Homo sapiens: one gene and its partners. The protein of the gene in region 5 purifies or fractionates together with the protein of the main gene of each other region. This does not show direct contact. Each region holds a gene or a part of one and is shown on either strand. Other genes may lie near its edges.

Region 1 (2,224 bases), on a different chromosome or scaffold from region 5:
CAAAGGAATGTGAAAAGTAAAAAGCTAAGATCTAAAGAATAAAGTTAAACATTTTATATTCACTGAGTTCAAATCAATGGTTCTGTTGTGAATTTATCTTCAACTTCATTCACTGAGTTAAATGAATCAATTTTTAAAACAATCTCTTTTTTTTAAATAGTAAGAGTAAGAGACAGTGTGTTATAAAATATAGTATATGAGTTTTGTAGTTGTAAACTGTGAATCTCAGGTCAAGCTACTTAACTTTCCCAAGACTCAGTTTTCTTATTTTTAAACAGGGGTTATAATATTCACTTTCTAAGACTATTTTTTTTAACTGAGCTAATGTAAATATATAGCATTCAATCCAGCACAAAGTGGTTATTTCCCATCCTTTCTCCCTATTACGTAACCTCTTTGAAATTACTGTGTTTCACTTCAATAAAAATATCTTTAAACCACATTTTATTTACAGAAGGCTTGATTTAAACTCTTCTCTCGGCTTGGGTACTCATCCATCTACCTGCTTGCCTTAATTAGGTTAATATCTAAAAGAGACTATGTGATGGATTATTGACTAAGAAATTAAATAGGGCCATGCTGTGCCACACTACCCCTGCCAGGAGATGGCTAGAGTGGCCAAGATATAAAAAATAAAAATAATAATAAATAGAAAATAAATAGGTTCAAAGAGCTTACTTATGTTGACCATTGTATTCATTGGACTGACTCACCTATGCCTTACCTTCCCCCAAATGCTTAATTTTCACAAGATTTTGTGGATTTTATATTTTTTCTGTTTTTCACACTCATCCACAGCCGAAGATCCACTTTGTGACAATAGTTAGTAAAGCCAGGTTTTACTCAAAGAAGCAAAAGATGAGCTCAGTGAAGGACAAATCAGATTTCCTGTGAAGCAGGCTTGTCAGGCTTTCTTTCCTATTTCCTATTAGGTCCATCTCACGGCAGAGTTGGCGGCAAGGGCGGGGGCAGCATGCTGCAAGGAGAGCAAGTGTCTACAACAGTGAGAAGGAGCCTGCTGTCCACTGGGGTACGGCTGGCCTCATGTGAGCGGGAGTCTCCTCTGCTGTTGGAGTGCCTACGACTCTGACACCCACCCCCCCGCCCACACTCTCTCACTGGTCCCCATTCCTGGCTGCAGAGTTTGTAGCTCTGCCTGCAGATCTGCCTGTTGGCTGGAATTTGACACTTGCTCCTTATTTGATCCCATCATAATTTTCTATTTTTTTTTAGAAAACTTTGTGACCACTTGAGATCAAGTCCTGCCTACTAAACTTGATCTCAGGGTTAAAAACATATTCTTCCATTATGTAGAAATCTGAAGGCCTGGGAGATTTACTGTAATTCATAACCAAAAAAAAAAACCACATATAAGCCCATATTCTAAAATATTATCCCTTTTAGTTTATATCAGATTGGAAAACTGTCTTTGTTTTGAATTGAAACATAGGGCATTCTTCCCCCATTATAAAAGATGTATTTCTAACATGCCACCACCATGCAGCCAAAGCTTGAAGGTATCCAGACGTCTTGCATTTACTTGTGCATTCAAGGTTCATTCAGGTGGTTTAATGTGAAGCTAAAATGTCTGGTCCTACATTCATCTTCAGGAATGAGATGATTTTAATTTCATGGTGCAGAAATAAGGCCAAATAAGAAAAAGCAGACCTAAAAAATGTTAAGTGTTTAACTTACTAATCCACTAGATCCTTGAGAGCAATTTTAGATTAAAATGGTCCAGAGGACAAAGTGCATAATTAATGATGAGAAAATGATTCCTTCAAGTCCCACAATAAGGAGTTCTGCCTGCGTTAACCATTTGTCTAGAGTTTTATTTATGCAAAAGTGGCAGTTACTTCTTGGTTCTGTCTCCTTCATTCCAGTACTGTTCAGTCTGCATTTCCGTGAGTCGGGAAATTGTGCGCTGAAATGCAAAGATTTCCTCTTCTCCGGTAAACATGGAGAGTCCTTCTGCTGAATCCTGGTTATAAAACAAAGAAATTAAAATAAAGCTATCACAAATGAAAATTTACAGAACCTAAGTATAGGTTTAAAAAAACTTTTTAGGCTTACCGGTTTAGATTATGCCTTTTTTTATAACTTTTTTTTTCCATATACAATCTCTTAAATGAGACTAGAGAGTCAACCAATTTAAACTGATAGGCAGTAAACACATCAAATTATCAGAGAGAAAACTTAAAAGGGAAAACTTTCTCCAAAAGTG
Region 2 (4,028 bases), on a different chromosome or scaffold from region 5:
CCTCTCCTGCAAGCAGGACACCACAAAGCTTCCAGGCCAAGGCCAGGATGTGGGGCGGCTCAGCACTGACTCACAAGGGTCCCTTCCCATCTGGCAGCCTCTGAGTCTGAACCTTTTCTCAAAACTGTCACAACAGCCTCACAGGGGGAGGTTTATTCTTCCATGGGCTGAGACCCGTGGCTGCGGTTGAGGAAAGACATCCTGCTGGGGCTTGGCACTGAGCTAGGTCCTCCCTCATACTACGCACACGCCCAGAAGGGGCAGGGTCTTGCTGGAGGTCACAGAGCAAGGTTGTGGCAGGGCTGGAGAACCCAGGGCCTTGGATGCACTTCCCCACACCCACAGTCTCCACACCGCGGTCTTTGCCCTCCTAGGGTCCCCCGCCAAGGGGTTCACAGCAGGAGGGAGGGGCAGTGCCTGTGCCAGAGCAAGCTATCTGCCCGCTCGGGCCTGGTATCGCAGGAAACGCCCTCAGAACCCAGACAGCACTGCAGAGCAGCCAGGAGCCAGCAGCACAGGCTGAGGGGCCCACAGGGCCAAGCCACCCTCAAGTCCCCTGCCCACCCAGTGTGCACCTGCAGCATCCAGGATCCTCTTGTCCACGTGGTCGGAGAGGAGGCAGAGCAGGCCGTGGGCCCCCGCCACACCTCGCTCTAGCTCCTTGGCAGGGATGGGCTCATCCGAGTCCCACTGCTCCACCTCACAGCTGCGGGGAAAGGGAGGCCCTCAGGAGAAGCAGGAGCCGCACACCTGTCCCCGCCCCTCCCAGCTGGGAATCCTGGCCTCTGATGGCCCTGGCCTCAGGCTGCCCGGGGCTGGCTGAGGGGAGGCAGGGTCAGGCAGGGGTGGTCTCAGAACTGTCCCGAGACAGCAGGTGACAGGTGAAGGGCTGAGGGGCCCCCCAGCAGAGCCTAAGCTGCAAGGGGGAAGGCATGGGGACAGCTCTCAGGTCAGCACAGAGAAGAGCTTTCCCACATTCACAGGGGCTGGGCGGCCAAGCAGGCGGCCAACTGCAGGGAAGGCCCGTGGGGGGCAGGGTGTGCCTCAGGTGGGGGGCCTGGATTCAATGGCCTGTTGCATCTCTTCCTGTCCGTGGAGTCCATGAAATAGAAAACTCTCATAGTTGGACTGGGCCAGGAAAGATAAGGTCAAGGCCACCCAACGCTTCCACGGCAGCTCACAGCAACCAGATATTTGTCCCAGTGATGCACGGTGCCTCCTGGCCCTTGCCATGGAATTCAGTACAGTCAGCACGTGTGGAGCCTCTATGTGGCAGGACACAGGATAGCTACTTGCACCTCCTGACTGAGCCCAGGGCACTGACCACCTTTCATCCACCTCCCCATGAGCAGGGTACAGCGTGAGCTACTGTTACCATGGGCGCGGTTGCTGCCTTCCACCTTCTCCTGCTCAGTACAAAGTGGGTCCTTGGCAAAGGTTTTGTTGCAGTGAACAAAATTTGAAAATCTCATATGCCCCTAGAACTGGCTGCTGAGGCTGGATTGCATCCTCTTCCTATCTAACATTGGAAACACAAACCTGATCAAATGCAGTGATCAGACAGCAGTCAGACACTTCTGAGTACAAGCCCCAGCTCCTCCACCTGGGAGCTGCATGGCTTTGGGAAGAAACTTAACCCTAAGTCCAGCCTCCAGTTTTTAATCTGTGCAATGGGAATTATAATACTGACTTCACAGTGCTACCAGGATTAAAAGTTTATGTATATGAAGCACCTGGCAAGGTTGGCCCACAAAAAGGGTTCCATTTAGCAAGGGTGGGCCAGGTGCAGTGGTTCATGCCTGTAATCCCAGCACTTTGGGAGGCTGAGGTGGGAGGATCCCTTCGTACAGGAGTTCAGGACCAGCCTGGGCAACACAGTGAGACCCTCGTCTTTGAAAAAAATAAAAAATTAGCCAGGCATGGTAGTGCATGCCTGTAGTAGTCCCAGCTACTTGGGAGGCTGAGGTGGAAGTATCTCTTGAGTCCAGGAGGTTGAGGCTGCAGTGAGGTATAATGGTGCCACTGCACTCCAGCCTGGATGAGAGTGAGACCCTGTCTTAAAAATTAAAGGGTCCTCAGGCCAGTCATGGTGACTAACACCTGTAATCCCAACACTTTGGGAGGCTGAGGCAAGAGGATTGCTTGAGCCCAGGAATTTGAGACCAGCCTGAGCAACAGAGTGAGACCCCCATCTCTACAAAAAAAAAATCAGAAAATTAGCCGGTAGTGATTGTTTGCGCCTGTAGTCCCAGCTACTCGGGAGGCTCAGGTGGGAGAACTGATTGGGCCCAAGAAGTCGAGGCTGCAGTAAGCCACGATCGATCGAGCCACTGCACTCCAGCCTGTGCAGCAGAGTGAGACTGTCTCAAAAAAAAAAAAAAAAAGATAAGTAAATATAAAGAAGAAGAGTCATCAAAGCCCCCTGCCAAACGTCCAAGGGCCTGGTCAGTGACCGCCATGTCCCTGACCCCACATGTCCTGTGGGAGCGTGGAGAATTAGCCTGGACCTTGCCTCAGGGGCAATCTCCCCTCTCCAAAGCCGGAACTGCAGGTCCCAGCGTCGTCTTAAGAGGAGAACTGGGCCCCAGAGAACTTTCTCCGAGACTCCCCAAAACTCCAAGCCTGCCCCAGCCGGCCACAAGGCCCAAACGCCCCGCCCGGCTCTCCGGTCCCTGGGACCGCCCTGCTCCCTCCTCCACGGCGCGCGAGGCTCTTACTCTGCCGCCCGGGCGAGCGCGACCCTACCCTCGGCGGGTATCCTGCGGGTGACGAACACCTTCATGAGTCGCACCGGTCTCATCCGCAGTGCAGCCGCCGACCCGGACCTGGCAGTACAGAAGCTGGCCCGGGAATGTAGCTGGGCCGGGGCGGGGCCAGGCTGGAGTGGGCGGGAGAGACGTCGCGCGCGGCGTGCGCAGGGGGTGTGGCTTCGCGAGAGGGAGCGCCGGGTTGCGGCTGAGCGGTGACTGTGCGTGCTCGGGGAGTGACAGTAACAGTGACCCTACACAGTGTCCTTGTGTGTGTGTGGGGGGGTGCGCCTCGTGCCACTGGGGAATCAGGGCCCCGGGGGAGAGGGGGCAGTATCCCGTCCAAGGCCTCATGGGAGCCCTGCTTTTTCTACACGCTCAGGGTCCTGTTTCCACAGGCTCAGGCCTTAAGAGACTGAAAGCCCCCACTTTTTCTGTCTCTTGGGTTGGCCCAGGGTAGAAACCCAGGTTCCAGGCTGTGAGGAAGTCCAGGACACACAGAGAGGTCACGTGTAGGTGTTCAGGCCAACAGCACAGCCAGGGGCCCGGCTCACAGCCACCGTCAATGACCAGAGGTATGAGTGAGGAAGCCTTCGGGTGACTCCAGGCCAACTCCCACCTGACTACAGCTAAAACTGCAAGAAAGAGCCTTTAGGAGAATCACTGGCTGAGCCCAGTCAACCCCGGAACCATAAGAGATGATAATGCACTGACTGCTGTTGCTCTAAGCCGTTCAATTTTGGAGTAATTCTTTATGCAGCAATAAATAAGTGATACGCTATGTGTGCGAAAGCCAGAAGCCATAAGAGTACAACTAATTCTCCATTGAAAAATTAACCGTACCATCCTGAATGCATCTGATCTTGGAAACTAAGCCTGGTTAGGGCTTGTATGGGAGACTGCCTGGAAATACCAGGTGCCTGGAAATACCAGGCTTATGTTTATCTTAAAAAAAAAAAATTAACAAAATCATAAGACAACAAACCGGGAAAAATACCATATATTTGCAACTCATTTTATAGACAAGGGGTTGATTTACTTATTGCACAAATAGTTCCTAAGACAAAGATGCCCAGCTTATCTGAATAAGCAAAGGATATCAATGGACAGTTTATAGAAAAGAAAATGGCCTTTAAATGTATGGCTGGGCGCGGTGGCTCATGCCTGTAATCCCAGCACTTTCGGAGGCCGAGGCAGGCGGATCACTTGAGGTCAGAAGTTTGAGACCAGCCTGGCCAACATGGTGAAACTCTGTCTGTACTGAATATACAAACATTAGGT
Region 3 (3,500 bases), about 27 Mb from region 5:
CCGGAAAAATAATTTTTAATAATTATAATAACTAAATCTGTCAATATTATGACATGAGTACACTAATACATTGTTTGTGACATTGTACTCCTTGAAGAAAATATAGGAATCCACAGCAAAAGCCACAAAATGTTCATGTAACTCAGACTCAACAACAACTAATTATTTTTTCTTAAACAAGTCTACCCAATGCTGAGTTAATTATACTAGGAAAGCCTGGAAACAACTAAAGCTTTCAATGATAGAAAAAATGATTTAACAAAATATGTTACAAGAACAAGAATGGGTACTATACATCTATTTAAAATAGTAGTTATGAAGACAAAGTAAAAGGATAGTTCTAATTTCACTTGAAAAAATCCAAAAGATTAAGCAATTTTAGACCCAAATTCTCAGATGGCAACAAAGAATTTGCAGCTTCTTGCTCTAGCTAAGGAACACACTTTTCCTTTCCACATAATTCCCACCCACCCCTCTTTATTCATATATGTACTTATAACCTGCCTTTATAGAATTTGCAGTCATATGGATGACAGCTAAATATTATAACCATTTTAAATGTTGAAACTATTTTGCAATTTATAACATCCATGTCCCTCACGCCAGAATTTGCTCAAATTAACAGGGAGAAAAGTTGCATTAAGAATAGGAAAACATGTATGTCCCTAATACTGTTCCCAAGAACTTCTCAGACAAAATTCCAACATTAGGAACTAAAGAGATGTGGCAGTGCTGCTTTTAAAAGAAAAAGGCAGGAAACAATTCAAATATCCATTAATAGAGAATGGTTAAGTAAATTGTGGTACAACCAAACAATGAAATACTATGTAGCTATAAAAAATAAGAATAAAGAAGCTGTTTATGTACTGACAAAATGATTGCCAAGATACAAATTAAAAAGCAAGATGTGGTACAATGCATATAAAGTATATTGCCATTTGTGTAAAAACAGAGGGACAAAGAGTATGTGTGTATTCGCTTGTGTATACATGAAATATTACCAGGATACACAAGACACAGATATTACTAACTACCTCTAGAATGGGGAACTTTTGTATCTTTTTGCGTTTTTTGAATTTTGGGACTTGTAAATATACTGCAATCAAAGTATTAAATAAGGAATAAAATAGTTCAATTTAAAAGAATTGAGATGGTACTCTACTCATATTTTTCTTTTTAAAAAATTATTTAAGATACCAAAGATCAGCATTCACTAAATGGAATTAAACACACTCAGAAATATTGATAATACAGTAGATAAGGCTGGGTACAGTGGCTTACGCCTGTAATCCCTGCACTTTGGGAGGCCGAGGTGGGTGGATCACCCGAGGTCAGGAGTTCAAGACCAGCCTGGCCAACATGATGAAACCCTGTCTCTACTAAAAATACAAAAAATTAGCTGGGCGTGGTGGCCCGCACCTGTAATCCCAGCTACTCAGGAGGCTGAGGCAGGAGAATCGTTTGAACTCAGGAGGCAGAGGTGCAGTGAGCTGAGATCGCGCCACTGAACACCAGCCTGGGCAACAAGGGCAAAACTGTCTACAAAAAAAAAAATAAAAATAAAATAAAGTAGATGAGCTGTGTAACCATCCATATTTAATTAATATCAACCAAGACTTTCTTCACATGAAAAAAAAAAAAGGCAGCTACAATTCCAAATTTAGTATTACCAGGAATTCAGGTAATAGTATTTTTAAAATAATATAATGACTAATGCAGCTATTAAATCTCTTGGGGAGGACTGCCTATATTTTTCAACCAGATATTTACCGAGTTGAAACCTAAAAATAAAATATGCTATCTTAATGATACAGTCATACAATGAATATTACACAACAATAAAAAAAGAACTATTCCTACAACATGTATGAATCTCACAAACATAATGTTAAGCAAAAGAAGCTAGACACAAAACAGTCAGACTACACAATTCCATTATGTAAAGTTCAAGAACAACAACTAATCTTTGGTGAAGTCAGAGCAGTGGTTACCTTTGGAGGAGAGAGGTGAGTACTAATGATATGGACATGAGAGAGCCTTCTGGAGTGCTAAAACTGTTCTATATCTTGATTTAGGTGGTGTTTACGTAAGTGTATATACATATGAAAATGCACCAAAACACACAAGACTTACACAGTTTACTGCATGTACACCTCATTTTTTAAGGTTGTAATGCTCTTTTCTCAATATTCATTGTTGAAATTTTCCTTGAAATTTACGCATTAAAATAAAAAATCTGCTATCCAACTTACCTCCCCCATTAATTCCTTAACAACAGGCACCACGCCATTGTCTTTGGTAAAGCCCTGGTATGACATATTCCTGGCTGCTTTTTGGGTACAGATGAATATATCACCATTCACCGTCTCAAATCCAATGTACTTCATATCAGGACGAACCCAACAATTTGTCTGCCCAAACATGGTCTCAGGTCTGAGAGTAGCAGCCACCAAGAAAATATTTTTACCTTTCAGGCCACTGAGAAAAAAAAACAAATATTGATGTAAAAACATGTCAACTCTGTAACAACTATCTGATGGTTCAGAAATGATAAAGCAATTACTCTGGCAAACCTACCTTAATTTAGATGGGTATGGCTCAAGCACCTTCAATTTGAGTAAAGTATATTCCTGAGGTCCAACACCCTAAGCAAATAAACGATACAAAAATTTGAAGGAAAAAAAAGACTTGCCTTAAACCTACTAATCTATGTGAGAGATCTGATTCAAGTCCCTAAAATGGGTTCTTGCATTATTAATTTTTTTTTGCAGAGAAGAGATTGCCAGTGGTGTGCTAACTATACCCACACAGAAGTCTAGTACGTTAGGAGAGATTTGGAGTAATCGCCCAAAATAGTGTTTGCCAAAATGAAGGTGAGAAGACACAATCAACCCTAATTCCATCCCAGGGCATGTCCCACATAGTAGTCATCAAAGGAAGACACTAGACCAGAGGTCAGAGATAATGTGCTTTCTAAACTTAGTTTGCTCCCTTACTAATGGTTAGACCCAAGGTAGTCATAATCTCTCTAAGCCTTTCTTTCCTTATTGGTAAAATAAGGATGTTGCGTCTCAGATAGGACTGTCCTGAGGAACACACAAGATAACAGATGAAAAATGCTTTGAAAAATCTACAAAGGATTACTGAAATCTAGGATATTGCTGCCATTGGCTATATTAAAACTTTACTGGGTCTTAAGTCTCTCAAATCTTTTAAAATTTTGATCAACTCTCACTTAGATAAGTTACATCAAAATTGAAGGCTGATTTTGAAAATATGTTCAAAGATGGTAATAAAAAATGATGCAATCATAGGGAATCATAAGTTCAGATGCTGGCATTGTCATTGATTTTTACTTTGCCATGGATTTAGCCAAATCACTTACTCTTGATTTATTCAAGTATTTCAGAGAATAATGTTAATAATGTGTTCTACAGGAATTAGAATGAACTTCTAGGCATGGCTAGAATTACTTTGGAAATAAGCAAGAAGGCACATGA
Region 4 (3,110 bases), on a different chromosome or scaffold from region 5:
CTCTCACAGCAAAGTCAGACCTCAGATCTAGGATTCTGCTACCATTAACTTACTGTAGAACTTCTCTTAAACTAGCCATGACCTCTGGACCCATTCCTAATCTGTAAAGGGAGGAACAACCATCCCAGGAGTGTTCTGTGATTGCCCCGTGTTTTAGGAAAAACTCTCCTCAAATCGTGTTTTCCCTCTACTCTCATGCCATCACAATCATCAACACAGAAGACTTCAGTGACCAAATGTGTGTGGGGTTTCCCCACCAAAAGCAGTGGACATCAGCCGGGTGTCCTCTAATTCAGTTCCAACACTATCTACCCAGAGACATTGTCAGACCCCACAGGTTGAGGGTTCAGTCTCCAAGACTGCCCCCCTCAACCACACCAGGCACAAGTCTAGGCCTCCAGAACTTCTGACCAACTGGCTTCAAGTTGAGTTCCCACGACCTCCTTTTTGGGTTCAATTAATTTGCTAGAGTGGATCACAGAGCTCAGAGACACACTTACTTATGTTTACCGGTTTATTATAAAGGATATCGCAAAGGATACAGATGAAGAGATGCACATAGAGCAAGGAATGAGGGAAGGGGAAGGAGTGCAGAGCTTCCGTGCCCTCCCTGGGCACGCCACACTCCAGGAAGTGCCAGGTGTTCAGCTATCCAGAAGCTCTCTGAACCCTGTCCTCTTGGGTTTTTATGGAAGGTTCATGACATCAACATTCCTTCCCCTAGGATTGAGACCCTCTCATGGGAAGGTCTTTAGGACCCACTGTGAAAAAGGTGGGCGAACATTAGTGAAAGGATACCCAGAGGTCAGAGGCCTGTCCCAAGCCCTAACATACCCAGTATTCTAACAAAGACTGGAACAAGGACTATGAGAGTTACGAGTCAGGAATGCTGGATGAAAACCAATATATATCATAACACCACACCCAGCATTGGCACTCAGCACACAGGTGTTAGAAACAAGTTACTCCTAAGCACTCTTCCTGCGTGGCCTCCGCCCACAGCCGCCCCTCACAGGGCTTTCAGCCTGCCAGTAGAAATCACTCGAGGGCCCACACATGCAAGGCCCTGGGCACACGGCACAGTCCTGACTCAAAGAGTTGGCCTCAGCTCCTGGGGGCTGCCCTGGCCTCATTCACCCTTGAACTCCCCAACTGCCACCCACCTTAGGCATTCTTTAAGCATCTGCTGCCAGGTCAAGACCACCACCTTCCGGGACCTGCAAGCCCCACCCAGCTCTGACTGGCACATGACCAGCTATGAGGGCCAGTCTGGCAGGACCGTATCCCGTGAGCTCACACCCTGCTGAGAAAACAGCACAGAAAGGGTGTATTTCTGGGTTGGGCACAGTGGCTCACACCTGTAATCCCAGCACTTTGGGAAGCTGAGGCAGGAGGACTGCTTGAAACCAGAAGGCTGAAGCCAGCACGGGCAACAAAGCAATACCCCATTTCTACAAAAATAAAAAATTAGCCAGGCGTGGTGGTGCGCGACTGTAGTCCCAGCTATTCAGGAGGCTGAGGCAGGAGGTCTCCTGGAGCCCAGGAGTTTGAGGCTGCAGTGAGCTGTGATCGCAACACTGCACTCCAGCCTGGGTGAGAGAGCAAGACCACAGCTCTAAAGAAAAAAAAAAAAAAAAAAGGAAAGGGTGTGTTTCTTTGCCTGGTACTTGCCTATTCCCAGTTCAACTCCTGAAAAAAAGAAACAATTTGATATATAAATACAGAGGTTTTTCAATAGATCATGTTTATTCCCAAGCCCCAACCAGACATGTTCTACCCCTCAAGATCCCTGAGACCCAGGCTGTGGGCTGGAAAATGAAGGCACAGTGTCAAGAGCGCCCCTGTTGGCATATGAAGACCCAGGAGTGCTGACCTTCAGGGATCTGCCTGCACTGCCCATGGGCCTGGCACAGCAGGAGGCACTCCTGTTTCTGTCCCTTCTGTCTCTGGTCTTCAGAGCAAGGTTTCTGCTGAGATGCTAAGGAAGCTGAGTCCTTTGTCAGCCCTGACTCTGACTGAGAGGCAGACAGGAGCCAAGGCCCCATTGAAGCTCCAGGATGACGATGGCCCTCAGGGGAACAGACGCAAAACCAGGCACGGGCCTGCCTTCCAGCTGGAATCTACCTGTCAGGCCCAGAACTTCTGTGCAGTTGGAGTGGGCTCCCCAGAAGGAAAAACAATACAGCTGAGTCTAGTGCTAGGGGACAGAGAACTGGGGGCTCAAGAAAGCACCCCAAAACGGGCTGCCAGGTTAAGGATCCATGGGGCTGAAGAGAAGTTTGCCCCAGAGCCCAAAGCCCAGTCTGCAGTCAGTGGGTGGAGATGAGAGGCAGCCTGGGCCCCTGCAGGGGCTGGGCCCTGAATCCTGAGGCCACCGTCACCTCAACATCACTTCCTACAGCAGAAAAAGGTCACTCTTCTTTCCAAAGGTGGTAACACAGCCTCAGAGCTTGCTCCGCGGGGCCTCTGCCAGGGGCCGCTGCAACCGCCACACCACCCTGACTGGCTCAGCAGCGCGGTCCAGCTCACGGAGGCCACCTAGGTCTTGGGTCTGGCTGTACTGCTGCAGGGCCGGCTGGAGCACCGTGATGGGAATGCTGAAGTTCAGGTGGGGGTAGGTGGCCCCCGTATTATTGTCCCGGGTGTTGCTGGTGATTATGCCTGTTGAGGAGTCAGAGAGCAAAAGAGGATGTGAGCCAGGGGGCAGAAAGGCTGGAGAAGGGAGGAGGACCATCTCCACCCTGGAGCCCCCAGGGCCTGGTAGGGCTGGATACCACCCCACGTGGTGACAGACGCTGAGCTTCTAGACATGAACACCTGCTGCCCACACCCTTTCCTGGCTTTACGTTTTCTCCTTAACACTCTCAAAATCTAACACACTAGATAGTTCACTTATTTCACTTGTTATCTTTCTCTCGACCTAGTGTCAGCTCCATAAGGGCAGGACTTTGAGGTTTTGTTCATGCAGTCTCCCCAGTACCTGAAACAGTGCCTTGTGCCAAGTAGGCGCGCAACAAAGGCTTGTTGAATGAATGAATGAATGAATGAATGAATGAATGAATGAATGAATGAATCAGACCCACAGACATATTTTGTTTGGCCTGCTCGGT
Region 5 (3,500 bases):
TCAATTTCAGAACCTTTTTTTTAAAAGGCAGCCATACTATTTTCTAAAACTATGCTTTCTACATGGCTTTTAGCACTCATTCCAACATATACAGAATCAGGCTAGTTATTATGTGTTATTGACTATACTAGAAGCTAGAAATAGACAAACTGCAGCCATTTCTCAGGATTAAGCCCAAAGTCAAATGAGAGAAAACATACAATTATAAATGACCATAATACAGTAAGATAACTGTGACAAGCAACAGACTCTGCTGAAAGGGAATTCAGGGACTTACTGCTCTACCTCCTATCCATTTTCATCTTTTCAACCTAATTGAAGAATCTCTAGGAAAATAAAGGTGAGGTTAGAATATTCCATAATTAAAGTGTGTGCCATGATTAAGGATGTGAGTTACACAGCAGATGCAAAAGATCTGACAGAATATTTTTTCTTTATTCTTTTTATCCTCTAATTTCTCTTTCTTCACAAAATGGTACCAGGGTCTCTTTGGACCTCCACATCAGTGAAAAGAAATATGACTGCTTTCTTTCTGCGGCAAGATGTTTTATATTGGGTGCATGGCACTCTAATAGATAATTTCCCTAGATTAGATAAACAAACACCTTTGACCATAATCTGTATATATCTAGAAAATAGTGATTTTATATTGATAATTAAGATAATCCAAATTATTGTTTTGGTATGAATAAAATAATTTTGTAACTGTCAAATATCATGACTTAAAAATACTTCATTTTGACTTGATGAATTTGCCTTATGTTTAAGAAGCTGAAGATTAGATAAAGATGCATATAGCCAAGATGACTGTTTAAACTACTTTCAAGGATTACAATGAAATCTTAAAACAGGTTATTTTCATTTCAATTGATTCCCTACATCTCTTACACACACACACAAACACACACACACACACACACACACACACCCCCCTTTGGACATTCCCAAACCTATTCATTCCCACGGGAAAAGAAAAAAAACTTACCTAAAAAGGTAAGATTTACCTACCTTCAAAGGTCTTTAATTGTTAAAAAGATACTTTATTTACTAAGAATTACCTTAGAATATTATAAAATCAGGGCTATAACTTACTCCACTTAGCCCCAATATTTCCGCCTTTGGTTATATGCCACTCAAATACAGCATTTACTTTCTTCACCACCTCAGGCCCAATATCCTTTAGGCGGCGTCCTATTTCCTCAAATACAAAGGTACTCTGAAGCTTCCCGCCCTAACAACGACAACAAAATAAACTTTAAAAGTTCTGTAAAAATAACTCATGGAGAAAAGTGATTATAAAACATGTGCAAAAAAAAGATTTTTTAAAACTCTGTACATAAGTCAGTTTTCTTCATACAATGTGTCTTTCATACTTTCTTATTTGTATACATCACTCAGAACCTCAGTCCTCTTAATAACAGGATTTTACTTTTATTAGAATTCAGAAATAATATTTTAAAAGAAAAATAGGAACTGGACAACCTATGTTTTAGCTAACTTTAGAAAGATCCTGATCAAATTAATCAACTTCTATGGTCTCATTTTTTTTATTTATAAAATAATACTAAATTACATGAAGTCTGAATTTCTTTACAGCTCTAAAACTTAAGTTTTGGGTTTTTTTTGTTTTTTGTTTTTTTTTTTTTTTTTTGAGACAGACTTGTCGCCCAGGCTAGAATGCAGTAGTGCAATCTTGGCTCACTGCAACCTCCACCTCCCGGGTTCCCGTGATTCTCCTGCTTCAGCTTCTTGAGTAGCTGGGATTACAGGAGCCTGCCACCAAGGCTGGCTAATTTTTGTATTTTTAGTAGAGATGGAGTCTCACCATGTTGGCCAGGCTGGTCTTGAACTCCTGACCTCAAGTGACCTAACCACTTCAGCCTCCCAAAGGGCTGGGATTACAGGCGTGAGGCACCGAGCCCGCTCTAAGTTTTTTTTTTTCTTAGACTATTCTTAAGGGATTTTAATTTTCAGTCAGTTATATGGTTTATGACAGACAATTAAAGATCATGGGTATCGAAACCTCAACATTACAAAGTTAATATTTCAGAGATAGAATATAAACATTTTTATCAAAAGTCTCAGCATGCTAATAAATAATACAATGTTTTAATAAATTATACACGCTGCTGGTTTATATATTTGCATACAAAACTTTATATAAACCTTTAAATCAAGAAAAAGGTACAGGATATTCAACTTTTTAATCTATTTTTCTCCAAAACGCTGTTTGCTTAAGATTCTGATTAAACAACTGATTTATTTATTCTAAAACTAGAAAATTATGTTCTCTTGAAAGATATCCTAGTATCCTGCAAAACGAGTTTTTTAAAGTTCATAAATTGCCAGAGTATTCCTTCTATTCCAAGCTGTTTTGAATTAATGTTTTTCACTTCAAGAATTAAGAATAGTTTCATGGTTGTTAATTTTCTAACGTAGCCTAACCACTCTTAAAGTCACCTTAACTGAAATTCCTAAATGAGGAAGTGGCTTGGATACTAATTTTTATAACCTACCTCAGAGGGTGTCTTAGCTGAAGTACCAGATGTTGGTGCAAGATCCACATATGCATTTGAAATGACAATGTCTCCAGTTTCTTGGACCTTAGGAGGAGAAGAAAAAAAAAAGATTTATTCTGATTACAATGGAAGTGTAATTTCACTGTGAAACAGTACAAAGTTTAAAATTTATTATTTTTGCCTCATATGAAAAAGAATATAATAATCCAGATAAAATAAAAGGCTGCTAAAGTAAATGTCAAGATGAACAAACATAAAGGCTTTCTGATTTAATACAACTGTTACTAAACCTGGCTTTATAATCAGCTGGAGCCCTTTAAAACAAACAAACAAAGAAACCCTATGAGGTCCCATCCCCCAAAATTCTAATGTAAATACACTGATAGAGACTGGGCCTTGGTATTTTGGGCATTTTTTGGGGGGGAAGTGGGGATCAGGGGATGCACTCTTATAAACAGAATTCAGTCCATGCTGAATCCTTATAAATAGTAAAAGGCATAGCACAATAGCCACATGAGGTAATGGTACTCAAAGTACATTTGTTCTGCTAATATAGAATAAAATTGGCTAGGAACAAATCATAATAGTGTTTTTTAAGTAGTAATTCCAGGTCTTATTTCAAGAGGAAGTGTACACAGCATGAACTAAATGTCTAAATAGGCTTTTATCAAAATAGTCATTAAAGGAATTCAAATTCTAATTCCCAGTCCTTCATTTCAAATTATTCCAATGGCTATTCTTTCATAAAAATTGTTATTGCTACAAATGTATAGGATAAGTTTCTAAAGTTTAACATAGCGTTTATTAAAACTTTGATTTTTAACAATCAAGAAGATCATTCTCTTGACTACATCTCATCATATTTTGGAGGAAAAAAGATCTTTCAAGTAATTTGTTCACTTTACTTCAAATTACATACATTGAAAAGCATGGAAAGAGATAATTAATGAACAAAATGCACTTCAGTAAATTACTTTATTG
Region 6 (3,500 bases), on a different chromosome or scaffold from region 5:
CAGGAAAATGCAGATTCAAATCACAATGAGATACCTCTACACACCTGCTAGAGTACCTAGCATTTTCAAAGTCAGAGAAGAATAAGACTTGACAAGGAGGTAGAATAACTGGAAGTACCAAACATAGCTGGCAGGAGTGCAGAATATCACATCCAGTGCAGAAAAAATATCTGGTGGTTTTATGCTAAAGCTAAACACATATATGTCCTTTGCACCAGCAATTTCACTCCTGGGCAAAGATCTGAGAGAAATGAATGCATATTGTCATAAAGGTTTCATCAAGAATGTTCATGACACCTTTATTCATCATAGCCAGAAACAAAGACTAACCCAAATGCCCATCAACAGGAGAAGGAATAAGTAAACTGTATAATATAATATATAAATCCATTATTAACACAGTAAATGTATACTATGGAAAACAACCTAGCAATTTTTAAAAAATGAACCGCTAGTACCTGGAACATTATAAATAAATCTCATAGATGTTGAGTGAAAAGCAAACAGGCAAAACATGTGCTTAGAGTATGATTACATTCATATGACGTTCAACAACAGGCATAGCTTATGAGAAAATATTACAATAATGGTTACCGACGATGGGAGTATAGACTAGGAAGGGAACAATGGAACTTTATAGCATACTAGAAATGTCTCTGTCTTTATCTGTGTGTTGATTACATGAGGTATAGGTATGTAAAAAATTATGACACCCTTCATGTACCTTATTGTAAGTTATCCTTCAATTAAAAAACAAAGTTGTTAACTCCAGGTCCTGTTAGTTAACTCCATGGAGGGGTATACAGTGATTATAGTAACACCACCCTTCAAGTTGCTTCTATAGAAGGAAACTATTCCACATTAGTTACTTCTCTCACTTAATCACTGGAAAAACAGCATATTCATGCAATGAATTGTCCTCGATTGAATCATGGATTCTTTTCAAAGCCGCTATGCAGAATATTATTGAGTGATCTGGCATCATTTGAATGTAAAAGGTGTATTAGATAAGGTCATTTTATTAGTAATAAATTTCTTAGATGTGATAATGGCATTGTGATTATATAGGAAAATGTCCTTTTTCTTGGAAGATGTATGTTGAAGTATTTTGGAGTGAGGTAGCGTGATGTCTGCAAATTACTCTCAACTATCTCAACCTAATATGATATGTGTGTTTATTTATACAGAAATTCAGAGATAGGGAGAGACAAAGCAAATGTGCCCATCCATTATCAATTGATTAATCTAGGTAAAGGCTATATGAATAATGGTACTAGTTTCCTCATTTTTCTGTGGGCTTAACTTTTAAAATAACTTGGGAAAATTATTAAATGAATGAGTAACATATGACTCTGCTATGTATTAAAATTTAGAATATACTTTTAGTGAAATACATAGACAAATCTATTTAATAAAAAATTTTAAAAATACCTGGAAATAAGAAAAGAAAGACATGTTCTCAGAGCTAGAAATGAAAAGTTGCACTAGATGATTGCCAGAATCCCTTTTAAACCTAACATTTAATATTCAACCTCAGGAATAGCTGAGATTATTAACTGCCATCATCACTCAGGGCTTTTGACTTTGAAATTGGGATGCATCAGTAGCGATAAGCTGGCATTGCATGCCTTCAGTAGACAAAGCCTCTGGAGCCAACTGTCCAATATGAGTTTGTGCTTTTCTTTTTTTTTTTTTATTTTCTTTATTATACTTTAAGTTTTAGGGTACATGTGCACAACGTGAAGGTTAGTTACCTATGTATACACGTGCCATGTTGGGATAGCATTAGGAGATATACCTAATGTTAAATGACGAGTTAATGGGTGCAGCACAACAACATGGCACATGTATACATATGTAACTAACCTTCACGTTGTGCTTTTCTAAATCAAGTGCAGCCTCCGGGGTCTGACTCTGAGGAGGATGTGTCATTTGGGATTCAGGGTCATTATGCACAATGAAGAGGCTGATACTTTATGAAACAAGAGAAATCTGACCACTTACAAAGCTTAAACATCCTTCCAGGCCTGATAGTGCTGAGTTAGGTCAGGATGATGGAATTTGAGGAGGTTTTTCTCTCCTCTTCACCACTACTGCAGCTACCAGTTTCTCACTCGGGTAACCTGGCAGCACCTCTCCTTGACCATTCCTAAATTTTTCCTTTTCTGGCCCCAACCCACTTGATGCTCACCCAAGAGCAAACCTGGAAGTGTGATTATGGAATGTCCAAATGACAGAGAAATTTAGGATCATCTACCAACACTGTCACCATATTGATAAAAAAAAGTGGAGGCCCAGTTAAGTGATTGGCCTACCACATCTGAACAATTAATGTTAAGTGATTGGCCTAGTACATCTGACCAGTTAATGTAGAATCCATGTCTCCTGATTCTCAATTTTATGTTTTTTCCCTTCCCCTCAGATGTCATTTTCATTTTGGTTCTTGTATAACACTGAGTCATTCTGGAATCTGTATCGATTTCTTTAGACCACTTAGCTAGCTATTTCACTTCAATGGAGATATATATACACACACACACATATATATCCATATGCTGTGTGTATGTGTGTCTGTGTGTGTGTGTGCATGTGTGTGTGTAGCATATATGTGTTTTCACCCATTATATGCCAAAACCTGTACATGTCCACAATGGGATGCTGAGTCAGATTTGAAGTTTTCTGGTAAATACCTGTTCATCATCATGGGACTGGTATAATTTAGCACCTAAGAGTCTGACATTGCATGACATCAAAAGAAGAAATCATAAAGAACGGCAGATTTGACCATATTAAAAATAAACTTCTCGGCTGGGCGCAGTGGCTCATGCCTGTAATCCCAGCACTTTAAGAGGCTGAGGTGGGTGGATCACTTGAGGCCAGGAGTTTGAGACCAGCCTGGCCAACATGATGAAAGCCAGTCTCTACTAAAAATATACAAAAATTAGCTGGGTGTGGTGATGCACACCTACGGTCCCAGCTACTTGGGAGGCTGAGGCAGGAGAATCACTTGAACCCAAGAGGTGGAGATTGCAGTGAGCCTAGATCACACCACTGCACTCCAGCCTGGGCAACAGAGCAAGACTTCATCTCAAGAAAAAAAAAAATGAACTTCTCTATATTTAAAAAACTGCAACAACTGAAAAGCAAATGAAAATGCATAGATATTTGTATCATCATATGATTAAAAATTAATATCCTTAATTCTTTAAACACTTTAGAACCAATAAGAAATATATCAACACTCCCAATTTTTTAAATGAGCAAATAATATAAATAAGCAATTCTCAAACGAATAAAAGCTGGGTCCAATAAAACATAATTGATTGCTTCAACTGCAATCAAAGAAATGCAAATTGAAATTAAATAAGATACAGCCTTTCTCTTTAATAATATTTTGTAAAGACTTATAAGGTGTGGGAAATGAGCATGTGGGAAAAAAGGAGCTCTATGAGTCAGCAATTTGATGTGGGCTGTCAAAAAAAAACTAAACTCGTTGTGGT
Region 7 (3,500 bases), on a different chromosome or scaffold from region 5:
GCCTTTTGGCTACAATCAAGTATGATATTCGTGCCAGGTACAGTGGCTCATGTCTGTAATCCCAGCACTTTGGGAGGCTGAGGCGGGTGGATCACAAGGTCAGGAGATCGAGACCATCCTGGTTAACACGGTGAAACCCCGTCTCTACTAAAAATAAAAAAAATTATCTGGGCATGGTGGCGGGAGCCTGTAGTCCCAGCTACTCGGGAGGCTGAGGCAGGAGAATGGCATGAACCCGGGAGGCGGAGCTTGCAGTGAGCCGAGATCATGCCACTGCACTCCAGCCTGGGCAACAGAGCAAGACTCTGTCTCAAAAAAAAAAAAGTGTAATATTCGCATACTTGGGAAAGAACTGCACCAAGCTGGCTTTTGGATGGCCTTGCTCTGCTCAAGTTTGCAGTAACCCACATTTCTTTCTTTATAGCTCAAGGACATGGTGCCAAAGGAGACAATGTCTATGAATTTCACCTGGAGTTCTTAGACCTTGTGAAACCAGAGGTATGTTCTTTCCTTTCTCACTTCCCTTCCCATTTTAGGAAATGAATACCAGTAGTTTAGTGAAATGGGGAGCAGGGTTTGTGGAGAGAAGAAGATAAAAACCAAAGGGGAATAATAGAGTTCTTTTATTTGGAACAGAGCCCAGGTTTTAGCTGCAGAGGAATGGGAAAGTCAGAGACCCCAAGTTGAGTCAGGGCCCTGCCATTTATTAGCAGTGTGATCTTGAACAAGTCTCTTAACTTCTTCGAGTTCTGGTGTTCTCATGTGTTAAATGAAGGTCTGGACTAAGTGATCCTTCCAGCTCTGATATTCTCTGGTTTTAGTGATGGCAGAGGAATATGGCACCCATTGAGAACAGAGTTACATAGAGTGGTTGAAGCCCCCACCAGGGGTTACTTTCATGTGACTTTGCCACAGTTGCAGGTGAGAAAAATAGAAATCAGAAAGGGTGAAGGCAGCTGGCCTTCAGAAAGAATGCTGCAGATATCATCAAAACTTCCCTTCCCTTAGAGCCTGAGGAAGCTTCTCTCATAAGCAGGGAGAGAATCCAATAGATGGGGTATTTTGGCTTCTGGAATTACACTTAGCTCTGGTGGCTTGAGCTTCTTGATTTCCGTGCGCAGGTGCTCAGTTGTTTTGAGAAAGCATGAATAATAACCAGTGGTACAGTGGGCAGAGAACCTGTCATGGAGCTTCCTTTGGAGAAAAGGGACAGGACATGTAGACAAACAATGAGCTGGAATGGCCTATAAGAATTTGAGTTTAGTTGGGAAGACTCCCCAAATTGACCCCTGTGAAAAAATCTGTAACTGATCCAATACAGTTCTGATCTTGATGCAGGTGTTTCTAAAACCGGGGTCTGCTGAGCCAGGACAGTCATTTTCATGGGAGGAAAATTTATAAGCTGAGGGTAATTGGATGCAGTACCCTTGAGAGGGTGATTGGACATAGTACCTTGCATGATGTGGCTGTGGCAGGAGGTTCATGCTAGTTCCCTCCAGCCTAACCAGGAACTATTTGCCTTTCTTATCCTGATATCCTCCTGTATCATTCACTGGGGGAATCAGAGAAGGACATTATGTCCTTACCAGTTCTCCATGCCAGCCGTTGGTCTAGATCAACCTTTTTGGCACCAGGGACCAATTTTGTGGAAGGCACTTTTTCCACAGATGGTGGAATGGGGATGGTTTCAGGGTGATTCAAATGCATTACATTTGTTGTGCACTTTATTTCTGTTATTATTACATTGTAATATATAATGAATACAACTCACCATAATGTAGAATCAGTGAGAGCCCTGAGCTTGTTTTCTTGCAACTAGACAGTCCCATCTGGGGGTGATGGGAGACAGTGACAGATCATCAGGCATTATAGTCTCATAAAGAGTGAGCAACCTAGATTCCTTGCATGCACAATTCACAATAGAGTTCACGCTCCTATGTGAATCTTGTGCCAATGCTGATCTGACAGGAGGCAGGGCTTAGGCAGTAATGCAAGTGATGGAGAGCGAGTCTAAATATAGGTGAAGTTTCACTCACTTGCCCACCACTCAGCTCCTCCTGTGTGGCCCGATTCCCAACAGGCCATGGACCAGTATCAGTCCATGGCCCAGGAGTTGGAGACCCCTGGTCTAGATGTTCCCTTTGCATCAGGACTTGCAGGACCAGAGAAAGAAGGAGAATAAATATATCCTGCAGCTTCTATGTACGGCGCCCCTGGCATGGTGCTGCTTCAGGGAACAGAAGAGGGCATTCTCACATTTTCACTTTCTCTCCTAGCCTGTTTACAAACTGACCCAGAGGCAGGTAAACATTACAGTACAGAAGAAAGTGAGTCAGTGGTGGGAGAGACTCACAAAGCAGGAAAAGCGACCACTGTTTTTGGCTCCTGACTTTGATCGTTGGCTGGATGAATCTGATGCGGAAATGGAGCTCAGAGCTAAGGTTAGTAAGGATCCTAGGATCTAGCCATTGAGGACAAATCATGGGGAACCCACGTTATTCAGGCCACTTCAGATACCTCTCGGTCTGAAAGAATAGCTACAAAGTTACAAATTCATTTAAAGACCTGGTGATGTGATTTTCAAGAAGTATTGGCTATGTATTTTATAGACTTTCCTTCGGTTGAAATCTGTCTGATGTTTCTCTTACAACTAGACTAAGGTGATAGATGTTGAGGAGAAGACCACTGAAGTAAAGTGCAATTCTTATCACATCATATCAAGAGTACATACGGCCGGGCACGGTGGCTCACGCCTGTAATCCCAGCACTTTGGGAGGCCAAGGTGCGTGGATCACGAGGTCAGGAGATAGAGACCATCCTGGCTAGCACAGTGAAACCCTGTCTCTACTAAAAATACAAAAAATTAGCCGGGCGTGGTGGTGCATGCCTGTAGTCGGAGCTGCTCAGGAGGCTGAGGCAGGAGAATGGCGTGAACTCGGGAGGCGGGGCTTGCCGTGAGCCGAGATCACGCCACTGCACTCCAGCCTGGGCAACAGAGCGAGAGTCTCAAAAAAAAAAAAAAAAAGTACATACTGTCAACGTGACACATCACTGTTGATATTAACCATGGGTTAGCTGGCTTGAGGTGACGCTTATCAGGTTTCTCTACCATAAGGTTATTTTCCTCTTGGCTCTCCTTGGAAGGAAGTCACTATGTGTAGCCTACATTTAAGGAGCAGGGAGTTATGCTTCCTGTCCTTTAGATGGAGGGAGTATCTACATAATTTATTTGGAATTCTTCTGCATAGGAGAATAATTATGCATGTCTATTGTCTCCCATTTATTTATTCAATCATTTATATCATGTGAGTACATGGGTATTTATTTTATACTTTGAGTTATAATCTAATATTATTTATTTTGTTGCTCAAATTCTTCCAGCTTTGGCACTAACTGGCCTTTGGTTATGTCCTCATCCTGCCCATCTTTCATTTGGCTTTTGTATCTTTTTGAGAAAGCGCCATCATTATGGGACTGTTTTTTTTTTTTTTTTTGAGCAC

The links.
Region 1: the proteins of HSD17B4 (region 5) and AFG1L fractionate together in Homo sapiens (co-fractionation; one large-scale study listed by BioGRID). This does not show direct contact.
Region 2: the proteins of HSD17B4 (region 5) and GRHPR fractionate together in Homo sapiens (co-fractionation; one large-scale study listed by BioGRID). This does not show direct contact.
Region 3: the proteins of HSD17B4 (region 5) and LARS1 fractionate together in Homo sapiens (co-fractionation; one large-scale study listed by BioGRID). This does not show direct contact.
Region 4: the proteins of HSD17B4 (region 5) and TYSND1 purify together in Homo sapiens (co-immunoprecipitation; one study listed by IntAct). This does not show direct contact.
Region 6: the proteins of HSD17B4 (region 5) and PLEK purify together in Homo sapiens (co-immunoprecipitation; one study listed by IntAct). This does not show direct contact.
Region 7: the proteins of HSD17B4 (region 5) and HACD3 fractionate together in Homo sapiens (co-fractionation; one large-scale study listed by BioGRID). This does not show direct contact.

Annotation. Positions count from the first base shown.
Region 1 is NC_000006.12:108,522,054-108,524,277, reverse strand, and holds part of AFG1L (AFG1-like ATPase), read right to left. Parts: intron 1,982-2,224; coding exon 1,853-1,981; 3' UTR 1-1,852. UniProt on the Homo sapiens protein: Putative mitochondrial ATPase. Plays a role in mitochondrial morphology and mitochondrial protein metabolism.
Region 2 is NC_000009.12:37,421,523-37,425,550, reverse strand, and holds the start of GRHPR (glyoxylate reductase/hydroxypyruvate reductase), read right to left. Parts: upstream 2,801-4,028; coding exon 2,718-2,800; intron 707-2,717; coding exon 576-706; intron 1-575. UniProt on the Homo sapiens protein: Enzyme with hydroxy-pyruvate reductase, glyoxylate reductase and D-glycerate dehydrogenase enzymatic activities. Reduces hydroxypyruvate to D-glycerate, glyoxylate to glycolate, oxidizes D-glycerate to hydroxypyruvate.
Region 3 is NC_000005.10:146,155,151-146,158,650, forward strand, and holds part of LARS1 (leucine--tRNA ligase, cytoplasmic), read right to left. Parts: intron 2,646-3,500; coding exon 2,578-2,645; intron 2,479-2,577; coding exon 2,253-2,478; intron 1-2,252. UniProt on the Homo sapiens protein: Aminoacyl-tRNA synthetase that catalyzes the specific attachment of leucine to its cognate tRNA (tRNA(Leu)).
Region 4 is NC_000010.11:70,137,481-70,140,590, forward strand, and holds the end of TYSND1 (peroxisomal leader peptide-processing protease), read right to left. Parts: intron 2,662-3,110; coding exon 2,444-2,661; 3' UTR 501-2,443; downstream 1-500. UniProt on the Homo sapiens protein: Peroxisomal protease that mediates both the removal of the leader peptide from proteins containing a PTS2 target sequence and processes several PTS1-containing proteins.
Region 5 is NC_000005.10:119,528,997-119,532,496, reverse strand, and holds part of HSD17B4 (peroxisomal multifunctional enzyme type 2), read right to left. Parts: intron 2,604-3,500; coding exon 2,517-2,603; intron 1,232-2,516; coding exon 1,093-1,231; intron 1-1,092. UniProt on the Homo sapiens protein: Bifunctional enzyme acting on the peroxisomal fatty acid beta-oxidation pathway.
Region 6 is NC_000002.12:68,371,782-68,375,281, reverse strand, and holds part of PLEK (pleckstrin), read right to left. Parts: intron 1-3,500. UniProt on the Homo sapiens protein: Major protein kinase C substrate of platelets.
Region 7 is NC_000015.10:65,554,463-65,557,962, forward strand, and holds part of HACD3 (very-long-chain (3R)-3-hydroxyacyl-CoA dehydratase 3), read left to right. Parts: intron 1-424; coding exon 425-498; intron 499-2,276; coding exon 2,277-2,441; intron 2,442-3,500. UniProt on the Homo sapiens protein: Catalyzes the third of the four reactions of the long-chain fatty acids elongation cycle. This endoplasmic reticulum-bound enzymatic process, allows the addition of two carbons to the chain of long- and very long-chain fatty acids/VLCFAs per cycle.